6 linked regions of the Homo sapiens genome follow. The protein of the gene in region 1 interacts with the protein of each later gene in a pairwise test. Each region holds a gene or a part of one and is shown in the gene's direction. Other genes may lie near its edges.

What was found.
Region 2: the proteins of TMEM14A (region 1) and NEMP1 interact in binary tests that used the Homo sapiens proteins (3 or more experiments, as listed by UniProt).
Region 3: the proteins of TMEM14A (region 1) and USP18 interact in a two-hybrid assay, tested with the Homo sapiens proteins (one large-scale study listed by BioGRID and IntAct).
Region 4: the proteins of TMEM14A (region 1) and MTNR1A interact in a two-hybrid assay, tested with the Homo sapiens proteins (one large-scale study listed by BioGRID and IntAct).
Region 5: the proteins of TMEM14A (region 1) and MTNR1B interact in a two-hybrid assay, tested with the Homo sapiens proteins (one large-scale study listed by BioGRID and IntAct).
Region 6: the proteins of TMEM14A (region 1) and CLN8 interact in a two-hybrid assay, tested with the Homo sapiens proteins (one study listed by BioGRID).

Annotation. Positions count from the first base shown.
Region 1 is NC_000006.12:52,683,702-52,687,377, forward strand, and holds the end of TMEM14A (transmembrane protein 14A), read left to right. Parts: intron 1-376; coding exon 377-464; intron 465-2,308; coding exon 2,309-2,348; 3' UTR 2,349-2,887; downstream 2,888-3,676. UniProt on the Homo sapiens protein: Inhibits apoptosis via negative regulation of the mitochondrial outer membrane permeabilization involved in apoptotic signaling pathway.
Region 2 is NC_000012.12:57,061,336-57,065,523, reverse strand, and holds part of NEMP1 (nuclear envelope integral membrane protein 1 isoform a precursor), read left to right. Parts: intron 1-784; coding exon 785-878; intron 879-1,338; coding exon 1,339-1,453; intron 1,454-2,179; coding exon 2,180-2,405; intron 2,406-4,188. UniProt on the Homo sapiens protein: Together with EMD, contributes to nuclear envelope stiffness in germ cells. Required for female fertility. Essential for normal erythropoiesis. Required for efficient nuclear envelope opening and enucleation during the late stages of erythroblast maturation.
Region 3 is NC_000022.11:18,166,895-18,171,082, forward strand, and holds part of USP18 (ubl carboxyl-terminal hydrolase 18), read left to right. Parts: intron 1-360; coding exon 361-440; intron 441-995; coding exon 996-1,142; intron 1,143-2,949; coding exon 2,950-3,045; intron 3,046-3,858; coding exon 3,859-4,026; intron 4,027-4,188. UniProt on the Homo sapiens protein: Interferon-induced ISG15-specific protease that plays a crucial role for maintaining a proper balance of ISG15-conjugated proteins in cells. Regulates protein ISGylation by efficiently cleaving ISG15 conjugates linked via isopeptide bonds.
Region 4 is NC_000004.12:186,535,669-186,539,062, reverse strand, and holds part of MTNR1A (melatonin receptor type 1A), read left to right. Parts: intron 1-351; exon of another isoform or gene 352-818; intron 819-3,394.
Region 5 is NC_000011.10:92,971,963-92,976,150, forward strand, and holds part of MTNR1B (melatonin receptor type 1B), read left to right. Parts: intron 1-4,188.
Region 6 is NC_000008.11:1,766,685-1,770,872, forward strand, and holds part of CLN8 (protein CLN8), read left to right. Parts: intron 1-4,188. UniProt on the Homo sapiens protein: Could play a role in cell proliferation during neuronal differentiation and in protection against cell death.

The DNA of each region.
Region 1 (3,676 bases):
CCCCGGTTCAAGCAATTCTCCTGCCTCAGCCTCCCGAGTAGCTGGGATTACAGGCATGTGCCACCATGCCCTGCTAATTTTTTTTGTATTTTTAGTAGAGACGAGGTTTCTCCATGTTGGTCAGACTGGCCTCAAACTCCCAACATCAGGTGATCCACCCATCTCTGCCTCCCAAAGTGCTGGGATTATAGGCGTAAGCCACTGGCCCGGCCATGAAGTGTTTTAATAGAGCACTTTATCTTTTCAAGACAATGGCAACTCAGTACCTATCCATAATAGTTGTAATGTTAGAAAGCTTTAAATGGTACCCGCTGTTTTCCCACAAGCATTGATAACATGTTTGAAACTCTGGTTCATGAATTAGTTTGGTTTTCAGTTACAGCTTTCTTCCTGGCTACCATAATGGGTGTGAGATTTAAGAGGTCCAAGAAAATAATGCCTGCTGGTTTGGTTGCAGGTTTAAGGTAAGTAAAACTATTTTGATCAATACTTTCCTCTGCTGTTGTTTTGAAGTGCTGAATTTTTGGGAAACATCAATTTTAATTTGAAAGATCAAAGTCCTTTTTGTTATAATAAGCATGACAGTAAAAACCTTAAGATAGCATGGATTCAGTGGGTCTTTGATATTGATGTACCCATGAACATTCTTATTGGATACGCATAGTGTTGCTGTAGTATCTGGTCACATAGGCATACTTGCCTTTTTCAGAAGAAAGAGCTAACTAAACTCAGCCTCATTTTTCCTCAAGATTCACCCATCTGCAACACTAAATGTGTTCATTTAAATCTAATACTCAGTCCCTTTTAGAGAGTTTGACAGAGTGACAGTGTGATACAGTTATTTCAAGTTTTTAAGGGACAGAAATTTAATATTTTTAAGAGTTTTTAAGAGAGAAGTTTTAATATTTTTTAAAAGATAAACAGAGGGCCTCAAGTTTCTCTTAATTTGATCCAGTAATTCTATCCATGAGATTAAGCATATTACCAAATAAAAATTTAGAGATAACATTTTAAAAATTTCTCCAGAAAGCTGGCTTTATATGTTGAAAGCCATAAACATGTTTATTTCCTTTGATAGACATTTTCACTTTTTGGAATTTATTCCAAAGCAGTGAGATATGCACAAAGACTGATGTTCATTGCAACTTTATTTCTAGTGAAAACACAATAGACTGAAAAATTAGGAACAACCTAACAGTTCACCAGTAAGGAGATGTTTGAAAAAATGTTTTGTCCATTTAATGGAATATTGAATGAGCATTACATTTTTATGTTTTCAAAAATGATTTGGTGGCATTGGAAAATCTTAGTGACATAATAAGGTATAAAAACAGGATGAAAACAACCACATATAGTGTGATTAAAAAAAGTTTGTGTATAAAAAAACAGGAAGGAAATATTTCAAGCTGTTAGTGTTTTTCTGTGGGTGATAGTGTGATGAATAATTGTAATGTTCCTCTTTCTACTTTTGTGTAGAATTTTCTAGTGTGACTATGTATTATGTTTCAGGGAGGGGAGGAGGAGTGTGATTACAAAAGACAGCTTTCCAGTTATAGCCCTGTTCTAAAAGTGATACTTGGTGGTGGGAAGAATCAGAAGTAGGGTTTATGGGCTGGGTGCGGTGGCTCATGCCTGTAATCCCAGCACTTTGGAAGGCTTTGGCGGGTGGATCACTTGAGGTCAGGAGTTCAAGACCAGCCTAGCCAACATGGCAAAACCCCATCTCTACAAAAATTAGCCAAGTGTGGTGGCGGGCACCTGTAATCCCAGCTACTTGGGAGGCTGAGGCAGGAGAATTGCTTGAGCTCAGGAGGTGGAGGTTGCAGTGAGCCGAGACTGCGTCACTATACTCCAGCCTGGGTGACAGAGTGAGACTCCATCAGAAAAAAGAAAAAAAAAAGGAAGAAAAAATGAAGTAGGGTTTATGGATCCGGAAGAAGGCCTCAGTTAATAGAAAGTAGCTGAGATTGAATTAGTAACTGCCCCAAGTTGGTCCTCGATTATTTTTTCAAGTTGCTTTATTTTACTAGCTTCTGAAAGTTTGTTTCTTCCCAAACCTTTCTCTTATAAACCCTCATCCAAGGTTTTCAGAACAACAGGTTCTGATTTTTCCTTATTCATTTAGCGAACATTTTAAAGTGGCTAATTCAGTTATGTCTGGGATGTTTTAATCCTCCAAGGGGTTGAGCTGGGAGAGCCCCCAAGCCAAGGATTAGTAACACTACTGGGTAGGCGAGTGCATGGCCCTTTCTGTCTTATGCCAGATAAAAGTGACTCTCCCTTTGTCTTTGTTTTATTTTAAATCCAGCCTCATGATGATCCTGAGACTTGTCTTGTTGCTGCTCTGAGCATCTGGAGGAACAGAAAACTAAGTTCATGTCATCCTGCTGTAATGGGCAGAGCATATTTTTTTTGTATTTAAAAGATAAACTTCAATATGGAATGCTAGAAACACAAATAGCACTGTCACCTCTAATATGAACATTAGTTTGAGGTAGTTTTTTTCTAAAGCAAAAATTTTAACTGTTTTCTAATTGTCAAGCACTATTTTCATTAAAAGTGTCTAATGAATCATGATATACTCTTCCATTTGTTGTGTCTATTTTTTATATATTTGGTATTTTTTGAAAATTCCAAATACTCATGTCTCAAGTAAGCTTAAACTACAACTTGTCACATAAAGGAAGTCTTAAGTGGAGTTCACAGAATGATAATGTATCTATTTGTCATTTGTGTTATATTTGAAATTATTAGAAATTATGCTTTTTCCATTTTAATTGTATTGCTGCCAGTGCTATTTTTTTCTTTAAAAAATTTTATTCTTAGCACACTGTTATGTCCTAACTGAATGTATTCAGTATTCAAATAAAAGACATTTTGGTTCAAACCTGTTTCTTTCATGTCAGTTTTTCCTCTGAATACTCAAATCATCTTTGACATTTAAATATTCAATTATTAACGAAAAGGGTTGAGAAGGAGGGTTTATTTAAGCCAACATTCTACTTCCTGAGGCGTAGATATTTTTTCTCTCTGAAAGAGTAACGATTCTGAAACAAACTGATTTTGTTTCAAATTACCACTTTATTTTTAGGCATAGTTATAACTTTTAATGTCCAAGGCACTTTTAGGGCCCAAATTGAACATCGGGAGACCTGAATCCCAGCCCAATTCTTCCACCCACTTGATGCTCTTTGGAAGGTCATTTCCTTTTCCTCTGACTCAGTTTCTCATTCTTAAGGAGGAATTGAACTAAATGATCAACCCTTTAGAGCTCTAAAAATCTACAGTTCCTATCCTGTTGGTTATGTGCAGTGGTGTCATACTTCAAACCCTTTCTTTAAGTGAAAGCGTAGGGTCCTCAACTGATAACGGCAGAGTTCATATGGTTCTGTTAGATTGGTTACCTTTCCCAACTGACTTTCAAGGAGGTTGTTAAACTTTCAGTGATAAGTAATTCAATTAAGGGAAGAAAAAAGCTGTACCAGTTGAACCGAATAGGAAATCTAGATAAAATTATTTGATGTACTTAAAAAAATCCCAATTTAAAGAAGAAGAAAGAAAATCCCATAAATCCTAATGGTGGCAAAGAGGTTGTTACCACAGGCAAGGCTGGAAAAAGCCGTCATCATTGAGGTGCTCTGCTCACTTGCTAGCTGTCAGAGATGACTGAGGAGAA
Region 2 (4,188 bases), on another chromosome or scaffold:
AAGATGAACCAAGCACTGATATAGAAGCTGTAGCAAGTTATTCAGAAGATCTAGCTAACATCATTGTTGAAAGTGGCTACAATTAAAGAGCTCCTCAGTGTAGACAAAATAGCCTTATACTAGAAGAAGATGCCATTGAGGACTTTGATAGCGAGAGAGAAGTCAGTGCCTAGCTTCAAAGGAGGGGTGATCCTCTTGTTAAGGGTTAATGCTGTTGGAGGATTGACTCCAGTTTTGAAAGAAGTTGTGGTAAAATGCTATCAGACAGTATTGCATGCTTTAGAGAAATCTTCATTGAAAGGATGAGTCAATGCAGCAAACTTCATTATATTTTAAGAAATTGCCACAGCCACTCCAGCCTTCAGAAACCACTGCCTTCATCAGTCAACAGCCATCAACATGGAAGTGAGACCCTCCACCAGCAAAAAAAATGATGACTCACTGAAGGCGTAGATGATCTTTAGCAGGTTTTAGCAAAGTATTTTTAATTAAGGAATATATATTTTTAAGACATAATGCTGTTGTACACTTAATATACTATAATATAGTGTAAACAATTTTTATATGCAGTGGGAAACCAAAAAATTTGTGTGACTTACTTACTGCAATTGCAATATTTGGTTTATTGCAGTGGTCTGGAACCAAATTTGAAATGTCTCTGATGCTTGTACTGCTCTAATCTTGTACCTTTTAAAATCTTTCGGCTGGGTTAGTTGTCCTAGTTTCAACAGTGCTATGTATGAAATATATACATATGGTCATGAAATACATTTTTTTCCTGCAGAAGTCAAATTTTCTACTACTCTACTGGGATGACTGTGGGAATTGTGGCCTCTCTGCTAATCATCATTTTTATACTATCTAAGTTTATGCCTAAGGTAAGTATCAGAATCTTCATGTGCAGCTAGAATGAATTTGGATAGCTGAAGGACTGTTTTCCTGGGTAATCTTAGAAAACTGAAAATGTGTATTGATGGCTGATGAGTCAATATCCTACTCTCCTTGATTCAGAAAGGTACTTTCCACGATGAAACTTGGAGCCTGATTACAAATTCTTTCTTTTTATATAAAATCCTGTGCTCAGAGGGGGATTAAAGTCTGCTTCCTGTTTTTTAATTATATAGCCAGGCTTTTAAGTTATTTAGCATTTCATCTTCCCAGTGTTCGTTGCAGACTGTACCATTTTAAGTATAAAGGACATCTTTTTAAGAGAAGTGTTTTTTGTGCATTTTGAGTAGGTTGAATTTTTTAAAAAAAAAATCATAGTTCCATTTTGCTTCTTTTATGTATGGAAAGCCTGTTGTAACTTTTTGCTTTCACTTCTACTCTCTGTCTTAGAAAAGTCCCATTTACGTCATCCTGGTGGGAGGCTGGTCTTTTTCTCTGTACCTCATTCAACTAGTTTTTAAAAATTTACAAGAGATCTGGAGGTGTTACTGGCAGTATCTTTTAAGTAAGTGTTGTCGGTTTTGCTTTCCTTTTGTACGTTTATAGGCTGTTTCAGTTAATTTGATCATGAAAAGATTTTGCCTGCTTATGGGATTTAATAGTTCATGTCATTTTTTTAAACTTTTAAAAATCATAGTTTTTCACTTATTTCTAATCCCTCTACAATTATCACCTTCTCTTAAATTAGAATGGTGCTGTTAAGGCGAAGATGTTCATTTATTGGTATTTATAAATATACCTTTCTTTACACAATAAACATCTTTCTGAAAAGCTGTAAGTTGACTTTATTAATGGAATCATATTTTAAATATACTTGGGGACCTTAAGTAAAAGACTCCGCAGTTAATTTTTTTCTCCTTCATTTCTGAATGAACTGCTGTAGATTTTATTTACAAAGTAAAAATCCTTGGTCATATAGATAGTAACCTTTGAGTTATCCTTTGAAGGGTGATTAATCTGGATTTCTGTATATTGGTTTTTTAAAATAGTCTATTTCAGGGTTGTTCAACATGTACCTTTAATGTTCTGTTTGAACCAAATAAATTTGGGACAGCAGAAAGGATAGAAACTTAGAGAAATATATTCTAAGAAAAAAGTGTGAAAAATTAAGTAAAAATCTGATTTCCTAGTTCAATTGGTGCTATATAGTAAATTAACTACTGCTTCCCACACAAATTATTTTTACCAAGTATAGATGAAAAAGAATGTCTTCTGATAACTCTTCTCATAGGTTATGTCCTCACAGTTGGATTCATGAGTTTTGCAGTATGTTACAAGTATGGGCCCTTGGAGAATGAACGAAGTATCAACCTGCTGACCTGGACCTTGCAGCTGATGGGCCTGTGTTTCATGTATTCTGGCATCCAGATACCACATATTGCCCTTGCCATTATCATCATTGCTCTTTGTACTAAGAACCTGGAACACCCTATTCAGTGGCTGTACATCACCTGCAGGTGACTGAAAGGCAATGTAACTTAATATTGACAGGTACATTGTGGGATGCAGTTGCAGCAAGAGGATACAGAGGTGTTGACCTGGGAGCTTCTTTGTTAATGAAAAGTCATTGTATTGTACTTCCACTTTTGTTCCTTCCCGAGTCTATTTTTTTTTTTTTACTTTCTATAGGAATTTTTATATTTTTATTCTAGTCATTTTATATAAAATGTCTAGTAAAATGTCATGTGTTCCTGTTACCACAAGGTGGTGCAAATTCTATCACTGTTTTTTTGAGATGGAGTCTCGCTCTGTCGCCCAGGCTGGAGTGCAGTGGCGTGATCTCGGCTCACTGCAACCTCCACCTCCCGGGTTCAAACGATTCTTCTGCCTCAGCCTCCTGAGTAGCTGGGATTACAGGCATGCGCCACCACATTCAGCTAATTTTTATATTTTTAGTAGGGTTCCCCATGTTGACCAGGCTGGTCTTGAACTCCTGACCTCAAATGTCAGGAGTTCATAAAGTGCTGAGGAGCTCCCAAAGTGCTTGGATTACAAAGTGCTGGGATTACAGACATGAGCCACTGCGCCCCGCCACAAATTGTATCGCTTTTATACCGTATGCTCATTGAGGTCTCCTGGGTTCAGATTTTTTTTTTGAGACAGAGTCTCTCTCTGTCACCCAGGCTGGAGCACAATGGCGTGATCTCGGCTCACTGCAGCCTCCACCTCCCGGGTTCAAGTGATTCTTCTGCCTCAGCCTCCCGAATAGTTGGGACTACGGGTGGGCGCCACTATGCCTGGCTAATTTTTGTATTTTTAATAGAGATGTGGTTTCACCATGTTGGCCAGGGTGGTCTCAAACTCCTGACCTCAGGTGATTTGCCCACCTCAGCCCCACAAAGTGCTAGGATTATAGGCGTGAGCCACCTCACCCAGCCCATTTCAGACTATTTCTCAGTGGCTTTCAGATTGCTCTGGAGGTCTTAGTCTTATTTTAAGATGTAATTCATAGCATGTTTTGTCACCTTGCATAATAAATATGGAATGTTACTAGGTCCTGAAGTTGTCTATTATAGATAGTCAAGGTGATGCTTTCAGTTTGGGAAACCAAGTTACTGGACCACAATCTTTTTTTTTTGAGATGGAGTCTTGCTCTGTCACCAGGCTGGAGTGCAGTGGTGCTATCTCAGCTCACCGCAACCTCTGCCTCCTGGGTTTAAGCGATTCTCCTGCCTCAGCCTCCTGAGTAGCTGGGGTTACAGGTACATGCCACCATGCCCAGCTAATTTTTGCATTTTTATAGTAGAGATGGCGTTTCACTATGTTGGCCAGGATAGTCTCAATCTTGACCTTGTGATCTGCCCACCTTGGCCTCCCAAAGTGCTGGGATTACAGGTGTGAGCCACCTTGCCCGGCGTTTTTTTTTGTTTTTTTTTTTTTTTGAGATGGAGTTTTGCTCTTGTTGCCCAGGCTGGAGTGCAATGGCATGATCTCGGCTCACTGCAACCTCCGCCTCCCTGGTTCAAGCGATTGTCCTGCCTCAGCCTCCCGAATAGCTGGGATTACAGGTATGCACCACCATGCCTGGCTAATTTTGTATTTTTAGTAGAGATGGGGTTCCTCTGTGTTGGTCAGGTTGATCTCCAACTCCTGACCTCAGGTGATCTGCCTGCCTTGGCCTCCCAAAGTGCTGGGATTATAGGCGTGAGCCACTGTGCCTGGCTAGAACCACAGTCTTATACCATGATTTTCTGTTATTTTCCCATCTACTAGAAAATAAGTAAGTATTTTATCATTTAT
Region 3 (4,188 bases), on another chromosome or scaffold:
TCTCAAGTACTTTTTTAAATTTTTTATCGAGACGGAGTCTTGCTATGTTGCCCAGGCTGGTCTCAAACTCCTGAGTTCAAGCGATCCTCCCACCTTGGCCTCCCGAAGTGTTAAGATTATAGGCATGAGCCACTACATCTGGCACTGGAGCTTAAGTTTTAAGAGGCGTTCTCAAAAATCAATACCAAACTTACTGTTCATTTATTGATCACTTCTTCTGTCGTGCCAACTTAGCCTTGCAGTGGGGTGGAGGGCTAGGAAGAGACAAAGTGATGAGTGTTCATGTGTGTCTAAGTACCAGGGCATGAGAAGCGACTCTGAAGACCTCACTAATTGGCTGTTCCTTTTCTCTGTGGCCAGTGTTTGTCCAACATGATGCTGCCCAACTGTACCTCAAACTCTGGAACCTGATTAAGGACCAGATCACTGATGTGCACTTGGTAAGAACCTAGAACCAGAGCACTCGGAAGCTTAAGATGCTGCTCATTTCACTCATTCAGCTGTTGTTCCCGTAGTGTGTAGAGGAATAAAAGAGTTAATCCCCTGTAATCCCAGCACTTTGGGAGGCTGAGGCAGGCGGATCACGAGGTCAGGAGATCGAGACCATCCTGGCTAACACAGTGAAACCCTGTCTCTACTAAAAATACCAAAAAATTAGCTGGGCGTGGTGGCGGGAGCCTGTAGTCCCAGCTACTCGGGAGGCTGAGGCGGGAGAATGGCGTGAACCCGGGAAGCGGAGCTTGCAGTGAGCCGAGATCGCGCCACTGCACTCCAGCCTGGGTGACAGAGCGAGACTCTGTCTCAAAAAAAAAAAAAAAAAAAAGAAAAAAGAGTTAATCCACATAAAACACTTATCACAGTTTCATAATATTGTTACTGGTATTATTTTGCACCTTTGTGAGGAGCTTCTGTCTCTTGGCTCCACCTTCTGGCAGTTGGCCTGACCTGGCTTATGGTGGTGTTCCCATCTCACCTCTCCGCTCTCCCTCTTGCAGGTGGAGAGACTGCAGGCCCTGTATACGATCCGGGTGAAGGACTCCTTGATTTGCGTTGACTGTGCCATGGAGAGTAGCAGAAACAGCAGCATGCTCACCCTCCCACTTTCTCTTTTTGATGTGGACTCAAAGCCCCTGAAGACACTGGTAAGGGGATTCTCTTGGTATTTGCTGCCCCTGTATGTGTTAGTCCATTTTCTGTTGTTATAACTCAATATCTGAGACTAGGTAATTTATTTCTTACAGTTCTGGAGGCTGGGAAGTCAAGGTTGAGGGGCTGCACCTGGTGAGGGCCTGCTTGCTGGTGGGAACTCTCAGAGTCCTGAGGCGAGGCAGTGCAGGGCATCACATGGCGAGGGGGCTGAGCATGCTAATGTGCCAGCTCAAATCTCTCTTCCTCTTCGTATGAAGCCACCAGTCCCACTCCCAGGATAACCGATTAACCCATTAATCCATGAGTGGATTAATTCATTTATGAGGGCTGTGCCCTCATGATGCAATAACCTCCCCCCCCCCTTTTTTTTGGAGACAGAGTCTTCCTCTGTTGCCCAGACTGAAGTGCAGTGGCACAATCTCAGCTCACTGCAACCTCCGCCTCTGGTGTTAAGTGATTCTCCTGCCTCAGCCTCCCAAGTAGCTGGGATTACAGGTGCCCACCACCATGCCCAGCTAATTTCTGTATTTTTAGTAGAGATGGGGTTTCACCATGTTGGCCAGGCTGGTCTGAAACTCCTGACTTCATGATCCACCTGCCTCAGCCTCCCTGGGATTACAGGCATGAGCCACCTTGCCCTCCCCAATTATCTCTCAAAGTCCCCACCTTTCCATACAGCCACACTGGGGATTCAGTTTCAACCTGGGTTTTGGGGAGGACAAACCCTCAAACCATTACACCACACAGCACAGTGTGGCCAATTCCCCCTTGCCTCTTTGATCTATCTCTGGCTTCTGGAAAGTCACTTATTTCATTTTCATGGCACTGGCCAATTTCTCCTTTGTTTGGCAAAAATGTTTTTCCCTCCTACCTCCACTTCCCTCATACTGCTCCCTTAATAGGAGCCCCCTCCTGTTTTGTTCCTCCAGTCAGTAGGTGCCCTTTGAGATCCTGCCAAGTGGACCACACCAGGCCAGGCATTAAGGGGGATATGAGGAGAACCAGAAGAAAAGCTGAAACCCTCAGCTGCAAAGTGTGGGGAGGCTGTAACTGATACAGTTTGGGACTGTGTCCCTGCCCAAAAATCTCCTGTTCAATTGTAATCCCCAGTGTTGGAGGTAAAGCCTGGTGGAAGGACATTGGATCATGGGGGAGGGTTTCTCGTGAATGGTTTGGCACCATCCCCCGTGGTGCTGTCTTTGTGACAGTGAGCTCTCATGAGATCTGGTTGTTTAAAAGTGTGGAGCCAGGCTGGGTGTGGTAACTCACGCCCATAATCCCAGCACTTTGGGAGGCTGAGGTGGGTGGATCACCTGAGGTCAGGAGTTTGAGACCAGCCTGGCCAACATGGTAAAACCCTGTCTCTACTAAAAACATAAAAAAATTAGCTGGGCGTGGTGGCGCAGCCTGTAGTCCCAGCTACTTAGGAGGCTGAGGCAGGAGAATCGCTTGAACCCGGGAGGCGGAGATTGCGGTGAACTGAGATCGCGCCCCTGCACTCCAGCTCCCCACTTGGTCTCTTGCACCTGCTCCTCCCAGGTAAGACACCTGCTCCTCCCAGGTAAGACACCTGCTCCTGCTTGGCCTTCCGCCATGATTGGGAGCTTCCTGCGGCCTCCCTAGAAGCAGATGCTGCCATGCTTCCGGTTGGCCTGCAGAACCATGGGCCAATCAAACTTCTTTTCTTATAAATTACCCAGTCTCAGCTATTGTCTCACAGCAGTGTGAGAACAGATGAATATAGTATTCTAGGTGGGAAATACCAACGCTGCTTTTTCCCTGTTCTCTTGGGTGGGACAGGAGGACGCCCTGCACTGCTTCTTCCAGCCCAGGGAGTTATCAAGCAAAAGCAAGTGCTTCTGTGAGAACTGTGGGAAGAAGACCCGTGGGAAACAGGTACTCATTCCCTAAATCAGACTCAGCTGTCCCTCGGTGCATATGGGGGATTTGTTCCAGGACCCCTGCTTTTACCAAAATCCACACACACTCAAGTCACACCCAGTCGGCCCTGTGGAACCCACGTATAGGAAAAGTCAGTCCCTCATCTATGCGGTTGTGCATCTGGGATACTTTATTTTTGATGAGCATTTGGTTGCAGATGTGGAACTCGTGCCTATGGGGGAGGGCAGACTGTATTTATTTACAACAATTTGTGTATAAGCGGACCCATACAGTCCAAACCCGTGCTGTTCAGGGGTCATCTGTCCTTCACTAGTCTGGGGTTGCCCCCCGTGGATTTCCTGATAGAATCATCAGAGGCCCCGAGGACACCCCATGGTGGGTGAGAAAGGGAATCTGGGTCTGGCTAGTATCTGGGACGCTGTGGTTCTGATATCTGGAGCCGTGGATGTGGCTTCTCATGTCGCATCACTGAGAGGGACTGCAGGAGGGCGCCTGAGAGCAGCCGGCAGGGCGTTTCCCTCCAGGCGAGACCAGCTCCCTGGAGCAGACGCGGTGGCTCCCTGGGTCCTGGTACCTGTGCAGAGCCCTGTGCCCTTGTGCCTCTTGTGGGGGGCCACATGGTGGTAGAATAGCCAAGTTTTGCATTATTCTCAGAGGAGCTCAGCAGATTCGGCGAACAGGAGCCTTGAACTCCGTGATGTCGCCCCGCTCCCCTCTTTTTGGGAAGAACGCGTTGCTAGCCCTGACATTTCTCTGACTCTCTCATTCCAAGTAGACTTCATCTCCAGAGTGATTTTGATTTTTCAGGTCTTGAAGCTGACCCATTTGCCCCAGACCCTGACAATCCACCTCATGCGATTCTCCATCAGGAATTCACAGACGAGAAAGATCTGCCACTCCCTGTACTTCCCCCAGAGCTTGGATTTCAGCCAGATCCTTCCAATGAAGCGAGAGTCTTGTGATGCTGAGGAGCAGGTGGGATGATCCCGACCTCCTTGCCATCCTGCCTCTCCCCAGATGCCATGTCCTTTCTGTTTTCCCTTCCTTCACCCCCAGTCTGCTAGGAGCCACCTGTTCCTCAGAGACTGTCCCCAGCCTCAAAAGCCTTTCTTCTTTCTAAATATTGGATTTGTGTTC
Region 4 (3,394 bases), on another chromosome or scaffold:
GTATTTTTAGTAGAGATGGGGTTTCACCATGTTGGCCAGGATGGTCTTGATCTCGTGACCTCGTGATCCCCCGCCTCGGCCTCCCAAAGTGCTGGGATTACAGGCGTGAGCTGCCACACCCAGCCCAGGTGGTCTTTTAAGGAATTCTTTTGCCCCTGCAGGCCGTGACTACCAGTGTCCCTTAACTACTGGAAATAGGATTTCTAATACTTTAAAGCTAGTCCTATTACAGAATCGACTGCAGGTAACCCAAAACCAATACAGAGAAACCATCCTGAAGGTTCTCCTTGGTCCACTTCCAGAACCAAATTCTGTATCAGTCTGGGTTCAATCAATCCAAGAAGTAAAATTGCTAGAGCAGTTGTGTGAGCTGATTAAATAGCGTATTTGAGGTTTTCGCTTCTGTGTCTGGTGCTGCTGTCTAAAGTCCACGGATTTAAGAAGGAAAGCTGGATGTTAGGAGGGGACGCAGGGGAAGCTAGAACCTGGGAGGAGGGACTGGAGCTCTGGAGGATGGTCGAATCTCAAGCCAGGAGGAGGTGAGCAGGAGCTGGAGAAGCTGTGAGCACACTGCCGTCACCCACCCCCTGCAGGGCAGCAGATGAGACTCGGAGTGCCGAGCTTGTGGTGGCGTCTGGCACTTGACACAGACATACTGAGGGCAGAGAGCAAGCTACTGCTGCACTTCCGCCTTCAAAATCTCACGCAATTGCCTCTTGTGGGGAACACTAACCCGGAGCGGTGCAAGGAAAAGTCTTTTCAGCTTCGCGAAGTTGACACAATATAAACCCACTGTGCATCGATTAACCCTCGGCCAGGTACTGTTCAAGGTGGAGGGAGAAGATATCTAAGACAGGCAGTGTCCTCACCGAGGTGATAGCTGGGGCTGTGGGAGATGGGGAGAAGTAGAGACATAATCGCGATAAACAGAAAAGCAACGTCGTGCTGCTGTGTCATTCCCAGAAGGGACTCACAGGACTAGTTCTGAGGAAGGTACTCCCAGCAAGCTGACATTTTAGTTGTCTGTTACCTTATTTTATTCATATCTGTGCCATATTTCACTTCCACTTTAAGGTTTTATTCCTGGGAACAAATATTGACTGTGCATTTTATAGTTGGTGCCTTTAATCACCACAAGGCTGATCGCTGTTCGTCTTGTTGCCAGCATACTGACTTAGGTGTTTTCCTCCCCCATCTTCTCTTTAGAATGTTCTAGTTCAAATACGCTTCTTCAGAATTGTGCCTGGAGAGGCTGTAAGCCAGGACGTAGCCACAGGGCCCAGTTTCTGAGTCTCGTATCTGTAGGAGCACAGGAGCTTTCTCAGGGAAATAACATTGAACAACACTCACCAGTTCATAGCATTGGTATAATCCTGACTCTTTCACTAAGTAGTCGTACGACTTCATCCAATTTAACTCTATATTTTTGTTTTCTCATCTTTAAAAAGTAGGAATTATCCAGGGAGATCATTAACCCATCTCTCAATTTTAACATCCTATGATTCTATGATTCTGCCACAGTAAGGATTGGAACTATATTCAACAGAGAAGAAATTCTTACCCATGAACAGACATTATTTTACATTTCAGAATGCATTATTAAGCTTGTTGCATACAGTCCTGGATATCTGTAAAAATGGGTAGATTGTCCATATGTCTGGAGTTACATAGATTTGAGAATGGAATAGATGAACTTATAATGTGTATAATTATAATTAGATGATTTAATGACTCTTATCTGGTGAAGTTCATAAAAGAAAAAAGGAAATTCCCTTTTTCCTTCTCCGCCCAGACACCACACACCCCCCAGGCACACATGAACACTGGTGCTAAAGCTTTATGTGAGCTACCTGACAGCCGCACCTGTGGGGAGTCTGTGGCTTAATTAATTTTCACCAAGATTTGTAAAATGGGATTAATTCAAAGAATCAATGATCTAATTAATGTAATTGCTTGAATTGTAATGCAACATAATTACTATAAAATAAATGAAGCAGGGTATTCGAGCCATGAAAGAAATTTATGACATCATTTGTGATTTCATTTTTAAGCTCTTTTAAAAATAAATCCATATTAGGCCAGTTTGTCATCATGACACTCTGGGAACAAATGTGCTGTTACAATGACAGTTTGATTTGGAACAGAATTTCACATATTATAGATGCTTTTAAAGCATTAAACATTTTGAGCTAAATAATTTATTAAAATACACCTCTTAGGAATTTAAATGTTTCAACGCTAATTGAAAGTGATCTGTGGGAAAATAAATTTGCCTTTGTAACTTTAATTTGGATGAATACAACCAATTTTTAAAGTATTTGCTTTTATGACAATTTATCTGAAATTCCTAAATAAATGGCACAAATTTTGCCTTTCTCTCATCTTGACTGCTATGGGCTGTCTCATTTCAAATATTGGGAAGTGACAGTTTAATGAACTCATTGAGTGTATGAGCAAAAGTCACTGTATTTATTGGGTGTGGTCTAGGACGCAAATATGAGGAAATGTACTCACGAGGGCCACCATCTGGAGACGCAGGGAAGCCTGGCCTACAGGTCAATAGAATAGAAGGCGAAATCTTCTGTCCGTCCACCTGGGGCTCCCTCTGTCCCTGTCCAGCGCACCCCTTTCCTCACAGCTTCTGGTCTGTGCGTGCTCTGGTGCTGCTGCTTACTCTAGTGTAATTTTCTTTTTCTTTTTTTTCTTTTTTTTTTTTGATACGGAGTTTTGCTCTTGTCACCCAGGCTGGAGTGCAATGGCGCGATCTCTGCTCACTGCAACCTCTGCCTCCCAGGTTCAAGCAATTCTCCTGGCTCAGCCTTCCAAGTAGTTGGGATTACAGGTGCCCGCCACCACGCCCAGCGAATTTTTGTATTTTTAGTAGAGACGGGGTGTCACCATGTTGGCCAGGCTGGTCCTGAACTCCTGACTTCAGTTGATCCACCCACCTTGGCCTCCCAAAGTGCTGGGATTACAGGTGTGAGCCACTGCGCCCAACCACTCTAGTGTAATCTTTTTGACTTTTCCTGTCTCTCAATTCCTGTTTCCCCCTGCACCAAATATATGCATTTAATATGTAAACTGAATTGAATTTATTATAATTTAATCTGAGTAAAAAGCAGTATAAAGTGCTTTAAGACCCTTCAAAGGAGGAAGCTCTTACCACTAGGTGGGCAAATGAGCAAAGGCTTCTGGCATTTCTATTTGAGATAGACTTGGGAGAATGGGCAGGATTTAGAAAGTTGATGTGAGGAGCCATTCGAGGCAGAAGGAATAGTAAGAAACAGAGGCAGAAGAGCCGCAAAAGAAAAAAAACATATTTGCAGAACATCTCATAATATTTGACTAATGTAGCTGGGAGCAATGGCTCACACCTGCCATCCCAGCACTTTGG
Region 5 (4,188 bases), on another chromosome or scaffold:
ATCAATTCCTGCCACTGCTGCAGTCTTGCAATTTAACCAGTTCTTATGTGACCTCTGGCTTTATTGGTGACAGTCACAAACAATTGTAGTACTGACTTGAACTAAATGATCTCAGCAGAGTGAGATTTCAAAAGGCGCTTAAAACCTACAGCTCTTTGAATAGTTAGCACACATTCTACTCTTAATCAGGCCTTGTCTTACTGAAGAGTTTGGATTTAATTTAAGAAACGCTTCTTCAGACCTTTCTGTACTTAAGTCTGGCTCCTTAAATCATTGGTATTAAAAAATTAAGTCTGTAACAATGAGAATACATATATTTCCAATAACCAAGATACATAGCCCATATTGAGGTCACAGCATGTTTCCCAGGAGACACCAGTATCCTTTACTTGCCTATCACAAACCCAGTTCCTCTATGGAGCAGATCTGTATCATTCCTAACAGTGCCGCTCCTGATGGCAGGGTGAGTGGTTAGATTAATTGTCTTTTTTTTTTCAGGGATATCCTATCTGTAGTGTCTGTTGCTGCATGTGGTGGGTTGACTTCAGAGATAGCACCAGAGAAAGGCAGACAGGGAGGAGTGGAGGCAAGGTGGGAGGTAGGGTCAGGGCACCGACCCAACTTAAAAGGTAAGGCCAAGTGTGTTCACTCTTTGCTACATTCTCAGAGTCTTGCACAGCCCATGGCACTGGGTTGGCACCTCACGCCTGTCAGATTGTGCTTCCCAGGGACTTGCCACACTTTTGACTCTACTGAGAGCCGTTGAGAACTTTCCCTCCTGGGCTCACCACTGCTGCCCTGACCCTTGAGCTACACCTCGCTAATATTTATCTCTTGCATTTTTGAGCTCTTCCTTTCTCTCTTCTGGAAACTTCCTCCATGTTACACACACACACGATACACAAAGTCTCCTGTTTTAAAAGAACAAAAGACTCTTTTCTTGACTTCATGTCCTCCTAACTTCATCACTACCTCTCTCCCTCCCTTTTCAGCCAGACATTTTAATGTAGTTGTGGACATCTACTGGTTCTACCCCATTGCTTCCCGTCCTTCCTCAGTCCTCTGGGCGCCATTCTCTGGAAATGTTCCTCTGTGCTGTGTGTGACACTGAGGGCCACTCCCTCTGTGGGACCTTTCATTCCCTCGGCTAACCTGGTGCTAGTTTTTGGATCTCCTTTTTCTCTTCATCTCCCGGATACCTGTGCCCTGAAAGTCATCTTTGGTTCCTCCTACTCTTTCATTCCACATGTCCTAATGATTTTACCTTCCACTATTTCTCAATTTCTCCCTTTCCTGCCTCCTTATTCTTACTGCCCCACTTCATGCCTTCATCATCTCTTGAGCAAACACTATCCATAGTGCTTGAGAGCTTTTCCTGCTCCCTCCCCCAGCCACTGTTACCACTGCCAAGAGTTTCCCTGTCTTCAGTGGCTGCCCTCCATCTCCAGAACAGTGTCCAACTCCAGAGCACAGCTCCCACGGCCATTTGCGGCTGGCCTAGCCCACCTAACTTACAGCCTCATTGCCCTCCTCTCACCAGTGTCACAGTGAGCTGCTGCTACTTCCCAAAGGGTCTGCACTCCCTGATGTACTTTCTCTACCTCTTCTGCCCAGTCAACAGCTGCTCCTCCTTCAACTCCTTCCCCAACTCCCCTGAAGGATTATCAATGTTGATTATTAATACCATGAAGGGGATAGTAAGTGTCTCCCTTGTTGGGCTTCTAAGATACCTGTGCCCTCCCCAGTACAGCATCCCCCTCACTGTACTATTGTTCTTTGTCTCTCCCCGCTGGACCGTGTACCTGCTGAGAGCAGACACTTTCATTCAGTTTCTGTCCACAGAGCCAGACACATAGTAAGAACAGAACACATCTCTGATTAAATTGGAAATGGATAAGACACCAGGTAGTGGGGGAAAATTAATTGATTTTGCTCCATGAGCTGGGATAGACCTCAGTTACAGTACTCAGCACTGCATAAGTAATCAATACAGGTTTTCATGAAACTGAACTGCTTTGAGAACAGCCCAAAGTATATCTCATGTTAAGCTGACTATTGGCACCTTCTGCATGAAGGCATGCTTGTTCTGTGATTCTCCTGTGTGAGTAAAGTTGCTCAGCAGTTTCCAGCCATGCCATGGTTGTACCCTACTGATTCCTCTTGGGGAGTTTGCCCCTGATATGCTTTGGCTGTGTCCCTACCCATGTCTCATCTTGAATTCCCACATGTTGTGGGAGGGACCTGGTGGGAGGTAATTGAATCATGAGAGCAAGTCTTTCCCATGCTGTTCTCACAATAGTGAATAAGTCTCATGAGATCTGATGGAAAAAGAGAAACTCCCCTGCACAAGCTCTCTCTCTTTGCCTGCTGCCAGCCACATAAGACATGACTTGCTCTTCCTTGCCTTCCACCATGATTGGGAGGCTTCCCCAGCCATGTAGAACTGTAAGCCCAATGAAACCTTTCTTTTGTAAGTTGTACAGCCTTGGGTATGTCTTTTGTTGTTGTTGTTTTTTGTGAGACAGAGTTTCACTCTTGTTGCCCAGGCTGGAGTGCAATGGCATGATCTCGGCTTACTGCAACCTCTCCTGCCTCAGCCTCCTGAGTAGCTGGGATTACAGGCATGAGCCACCACACCTGGCTAATTTTTTTTTTTTCTGAGACAGAGTCTTGCTGTCGCCCAGGCTGGAGTGCAGTAGCGCAATCTCGGCTCACTGCAAGCTCCGCCCCCTGGGGTTCATGCCATTCTCTTGCCTCAGCCTCCCGAGTAGCTGGGACTACAGGCGACCGCCACCTCGCCCGGCTAATTTTTTGTATTTTTAGTAGAGACAGGGTTTCACCGTGTTAGCCAGGATGGTCTCGATCTCCTGACCTCGTGATCCGCCCGCCTTGGCCTCCCAAAGTGCTGGGATTACAGGCGTGAGCCACCGCGCCCGGCCTAATTTTGTATTTTTTAGTAGAGATGGTGTTTCTCCATGTTGGTCAGGCTGGTCTCAAACTCCTGACCTCAGGTGATCCACCCACCTCAGCCTCCCAAAGTGCTGGGATGACAGGTGTGAGCCACTGTGCCCGGCCTTGGGTATGTCTTTATCAGCAGCGTGAAAACAGACTAATACAGCCCCTTTCTTGGTCTGGCCCGAGGTGGCCACTTTTAAGCTGCCTGTAATATGCTGGCCATATAAGAGAGCTGAGAGAACCATGTCCTCACTGTAACACCCAAGTACTCTCCACTATCAGAGAGGAAGTCATAACAACACCAGTTATTCCTGGCTCCATAGGCACAGCCACCTTAATTTTCCAAGTAGCAGTCAGAAGCTGTGGTCTGACAATGGATTTTTGTGCTGCAAATGGGTTAAAGAGGCTGTCTGGGAGGTTTAGTGAGTGCACGAATTGGCATTTCTGGGGTACGTTGATGATTGGTAAAGCAGAAATATATGAACTATTTGATGTTAAGATTGCCTAGGAAAACATGGAGGATTTGCTTGCTGAACACACAGATCTTTGTCCAAGGTCACTCTGTCTATGCTGGCAAAGCTGCCCCTCCTCCAGGCCCCCAGTGATGCTAAGAATTCACACCATCTCCTATCCAGAACCAGTAACTGCCTGGGAGGTTCCTGATGGGAATATTCTGCCTATGCAGGTGCTTTGCTTCCCCGGTTAGATTAGAAAACAGTCTGCACTGTGGCCCCTGTTCCTTGCCTCCTCTCTTCCAACTTGTTGACTGAGACAGCAAATGATGCTTAATAAGCAGCATGGTTCTGAACAAAGGCTCTGGAAGGCCTAGAGTGAAATGCTTAATAGGCCCACAGCCCCTACCCTCCAAGTTATAGAATGAAGTGGAGCCCACTCCATCAAGGCTTCTATCCTACCACCGACCACTCATTGAGATGTCACTTGGCATCAGGTGTCTTTTGACTTGCTCAGCCTGCAATGTTTAGAGTGCCATTATCAGCCCAAGACCAAACTGGGTAACCTTGGACTCCTTCCTGAATGTTTCTTAAGCTGTCCAACTTTGCATTTCAGCTGTGAATACCTTATTGCCTCTTCACTGAGCAAAAATGAACAGTTTTTAAATCCCATAATTATGTCTTTAGCTGAATAATCAGGAAAGCTAATAATCCTCTTTAATTCCTCCCATGTAACTTTCAGTAGCTCAAGGGTATAAAGACTTTAATGTTTGCCTGTCTT
Region 6 (4,188 bases), on another chromosome or scaffold:
CCGGCCGATTCGGCCTCCAGTTTTACCCATGGAAGGAACAGTGACTTCCAGCTGTGCATTACACTTAAGGACTCCTTCATGTGGCCTGAGCCTTATGGTGCACAGCAAGGGAACAGTGGGAACCCCTGTGTCCCATTTTGCGTATCAAGAGTGAGAGGGTGTGGTTGGGTCAAGGAGCAGAAATAGAAGCAAAAGGAGAAGCTGAGCTCTTCCCATACCCCTTCTGTGCTGCCTGACAGAACAAGGCCTAGCCACACTTCTGTGGGTGCCCACCTTGTGACTTGGGGTGAACCACAGCTGTTCTCAGTACAACGCTGATGCCACGAAAGGACAGCAGAGCTCTGCAGGACTCCAGGAAGACTGGGCGCTTGGGCTGGATCCTGCCTCTGGGACTGGCCTTCTACCCTCATGGCTGAGAGAGCTGAGGAGTTCACCTCCTTTGTGAACTCCTGGCTGGAGGATGCTGGTTGGCATTAACTAAACTCAGAGACCCACAGTAACGAGTTAGACTAGAACAGCACCAGCTTACCCAGAAAGTCAGGAGGTTTGAGCAAAGAATCAGAATGGGGGATTCACTACAGGACTGGAAGGGGAAGTAAGCATTCTGGTCTTTATAATCTGCTGTTTCTGCATCCCTAATTGGCACCTGTTCTCTGACTGCCAGGAGGGTTTGCCCACTCAGCTGTGGCTTACCTGTTTCTGTTTCCATGTCTTTCACCTATCTGCCACTTTTCTGTAGATATGGTAATCTCTCCAAAAAGATATCTAGAAAGCTTGAAGACCTGGTAGCTATTTGCTCTTATGGTGAAGATCACACAAACTAGTTGAACATCTGGCTTGTAGTAGGTGCTTCATTTCCCGCTGCTCTGTATGTTTCTTTCTTTTTTTTTTTTTTTTTTTTTTTTGAGACGGGGTCTCATCTTGTCACCCAGGCTGGAGTGCAGTGGCGCAATCTCAGCTCACTGCCACCTCCACCTCCCGGGTTCAAGCGATTCTCCTGCCTCAGCCTCCCAAGTAGCTGGGATCACAGGCATGTACCACCACGCCCAGCTAATTTTTTGTATCTCTAATAGAGTCGAGGTTTGACCATGTTGGCCAGGCTGGTCTCGAACTTCTGACCTTGTGATGCACCTGCCTTGGCATCCCAAAGTGCTGGGATTACAGGCGTGCGCCACTGCACTCGGCCTGCTCTGTGTATTTCTTTTTCCTGTAGTCAGATTCTGGGGTCCAGGGTGGTTAGGAAAGAAACTTGTTTTCTTTCTTTCTTTTTTTTTTTGAGATGGAGTTTTGCTCTGTTGCCCAGGTTGAAGTGCAGTTGTGTGATCTCGGCTCACTGCAACCTCCACCCTCCTGGGTTCCAGAAATTCTCCTGCCTCAGCCTCCTGAGTAGCTCAAATTACAGGTGCGCACCACCACGCCTGGCTGATTTTTGTATTTTTAGTAGAGGCAGGGTTTTGCCGTGTTGGCCAGGTTGGTCTTGAACTCCTGACCTCAAGTGATTCACCCACCTTGGCTTCCCAAAGTGCTGGGATTACAGGTGTGAGCCACCACACCCAGCCTGAAACTTGGTTTCTTAGCTCCTAAATAGTGAAATCAAGATCAGAGCCCACTAAGCCAGCCGCTCTTCTTGGTTTTTGGTTCTCATGTCCTGGAGTCCCTCTCACCTTGACCAAACCAAAGACCTCCTGAAGCATCACTTGGGCTCACCACTTCCACTGAGGTGGATTTGAGTCATTGATCTGGGCAGAGCCTTCTGGAGTCGGGGTTTCTCTCGTCTCAAGGCAGAGGTCCTACAGAAGTTAGTGGTCTTGGCCAAGCGGACATTGATGCAACTGTGGCAAAATGGGACCTATAAGTCAGAGCTGATGACCTACTCGTGGAAAAGTACAGGGAGAAGTTTTACGAGGGGTCCATATTTTAACCTTTAACAGTGTTGTTCACGTTAACCCTTGTAATGGATGCTATTCCTTGCCTGATACCTGTCCTTTCCACCCAGCCTGCTTTTCTTTAATGCTGGTAAGCGGTCTCCCCTCCAGGCATTAGGCTGCACTTGAAGTTGATCTGCTCCTGTGAAGTGCATAGGGGTTCAACGATGCCTTGCTGCACACTGAATACCAGAGCCGAGTGCTCTTGCCAGCCCCTTAATACCATGTTCAACCTGATTTGTCAACAGGTTAACAGAAATGTGTTTGGAGATGTGTAAGTACACTGGAGTCTTGATATATAGCATGACCAGAAGTGTGGGTCACGAGGGCACACATGGGCATGGCAGCCCCTCAGTTGTCATCCATAGCATCTATCAGAGAGCACGCCTGTGTGCCCTGAACTCACGCACCAGGGGCAGCATGACACGGGAGCCGTTTCTCTAGGGAGAAACATGAGTACCAGTGCTGTCTTTCCCCACATCAGATTTGTGTTCAAACAGAGCTAGTCTGTGTTAAAGCTGGAGTGTTAATGGAGAAACAGACAAACTCTTGTACTATTTTGCCTTTGATTATAGACCATTATCAAAGCAAGAGGTTAGGAGTGATCAGTGCTCCCTTGTCATTTGCATCAGGTCCCAGGACTCACATTCTTTGCATGCTTGTGTGAGCTAGTGTTTTCCATGTCCTTGGGGTGTGGTCACAGCGACCTTTTTGCCTGAATAATGATTGGCAAGTTTTTGCTGAATGGCCACAGTGAATGGCTCCTCCTATGCTTCTGGCTCTAGTCCTGCTGTCTCACAATTGAGTCAATTCTGGGGTCTCTTCCGGAGAGCAGAGGGTCCAGCTGCGTGGGGAGTGTGGTGTTCCCAGCCCTGCTGTCTGTTCGCTGGGTGTGAGTGACAAGAGTCCCCACTCCCTGCAGAAATTCCATTACCTGGACAAGTCCCTGCACACTGGGTGAGGGGGGACCAGGCGGGGACCTGAGTCTTTGTCGGTAGCCGTTCCTATGTCATCGTTGTGTGCCTGGGTTTCCTGCCGTGTAAAAGGAAAGGCTGGAATCAATCACACGTCCCTTCCAGTTTTTCAAGAACTTGAGACTCTGGTGTTTGTAGCTTTGCAGACAGGTTCAGGCTTAGGTAAAGTGGACCCTTTCAGCATGATTCAGCATCTGTTCATGTGTTCCATAAATGTTTCTTGAGGGCCCACTGTGGACCCAGTGCTGCATCAGGCAGAGGAGATGCTGTGATGGAAGGCAGGTGTGGTCTGTGCCCTCACAGAGCTTGCTGTCCAGTGGAGGTGAGGATTCAGTAAGCACTTGTCCTATGTGCACCCCACCAGCAAGTCTCCCGCCTTCACAGCAGTCCCAATCAGTCACACAATTCAGGCATCGCAGGATGAAACATATTTAAGTCATTACACTGGGATACACTTTGTTACAGCACTGAACTTCTGCTGTTTGATCCTAGTTAACACCCCAAACACCAAAAATGAGTGTTTGGGGTATGCATCAGGAGCTTGTAGCAAAGGTACTTAACCCAGTCCATGGGTCTCCCCTACTCTGGGAGGGCATCTGGAGCAAATGGCCTTTAAGTGAGGACCTGACAGGTAAGATGATGCCAACTTGGGGAAGGTAAAGACTTTTCCAGGAGAGGGCCCAGCAGCTGCAGAGACCCAGAGGTGCAGGAGAGTGTGATGTTTTCAAAGGACTGGAAGGTTATAGCATGGAGTGAGATGCAGGGGATGGTGAGAGTGGAACCAGAGAAGGTATAATTGATAATCACATTCTGCAGAGTGCCGTAGGTCACAGTGAGGAGTTCAGGCCTTCCCTGCTGCTGTTGAGAAGGCATTCCATGGCCTTAACCAAGGAATAACATGAAGAACAGGAGCACAGGTTTTCGTGACATCCTTGGGGTGTTAACTAGGATCAAACAGCAGAAGTTCAGTGCTGTAACAAAGTGTATCCCAGTGTAATGACTTAAATATGTTTCATCCTGCGATGCCTGAATTGTGTGACTGATTGGGACTGCTGTGAAGGCGGGAGACTTGCTGGTGGGGTGCACATAGGACGAGCATAGGACCGTGTGTTCCTGCCAGCACGGCTCCGGCCTCCTGTTCGTGGCTGGACCGCTCTAGCTTTAGTTTCATTTTCTTTCCTCCTATACTGTCAGTGGATGTTACCTTGGTATGTTTATGCACCCTTGTAAGTTCATTAAGAATAAGGTACAGAATTAAATATTTTGTAGTTTAATGTTTGCGTTACTGG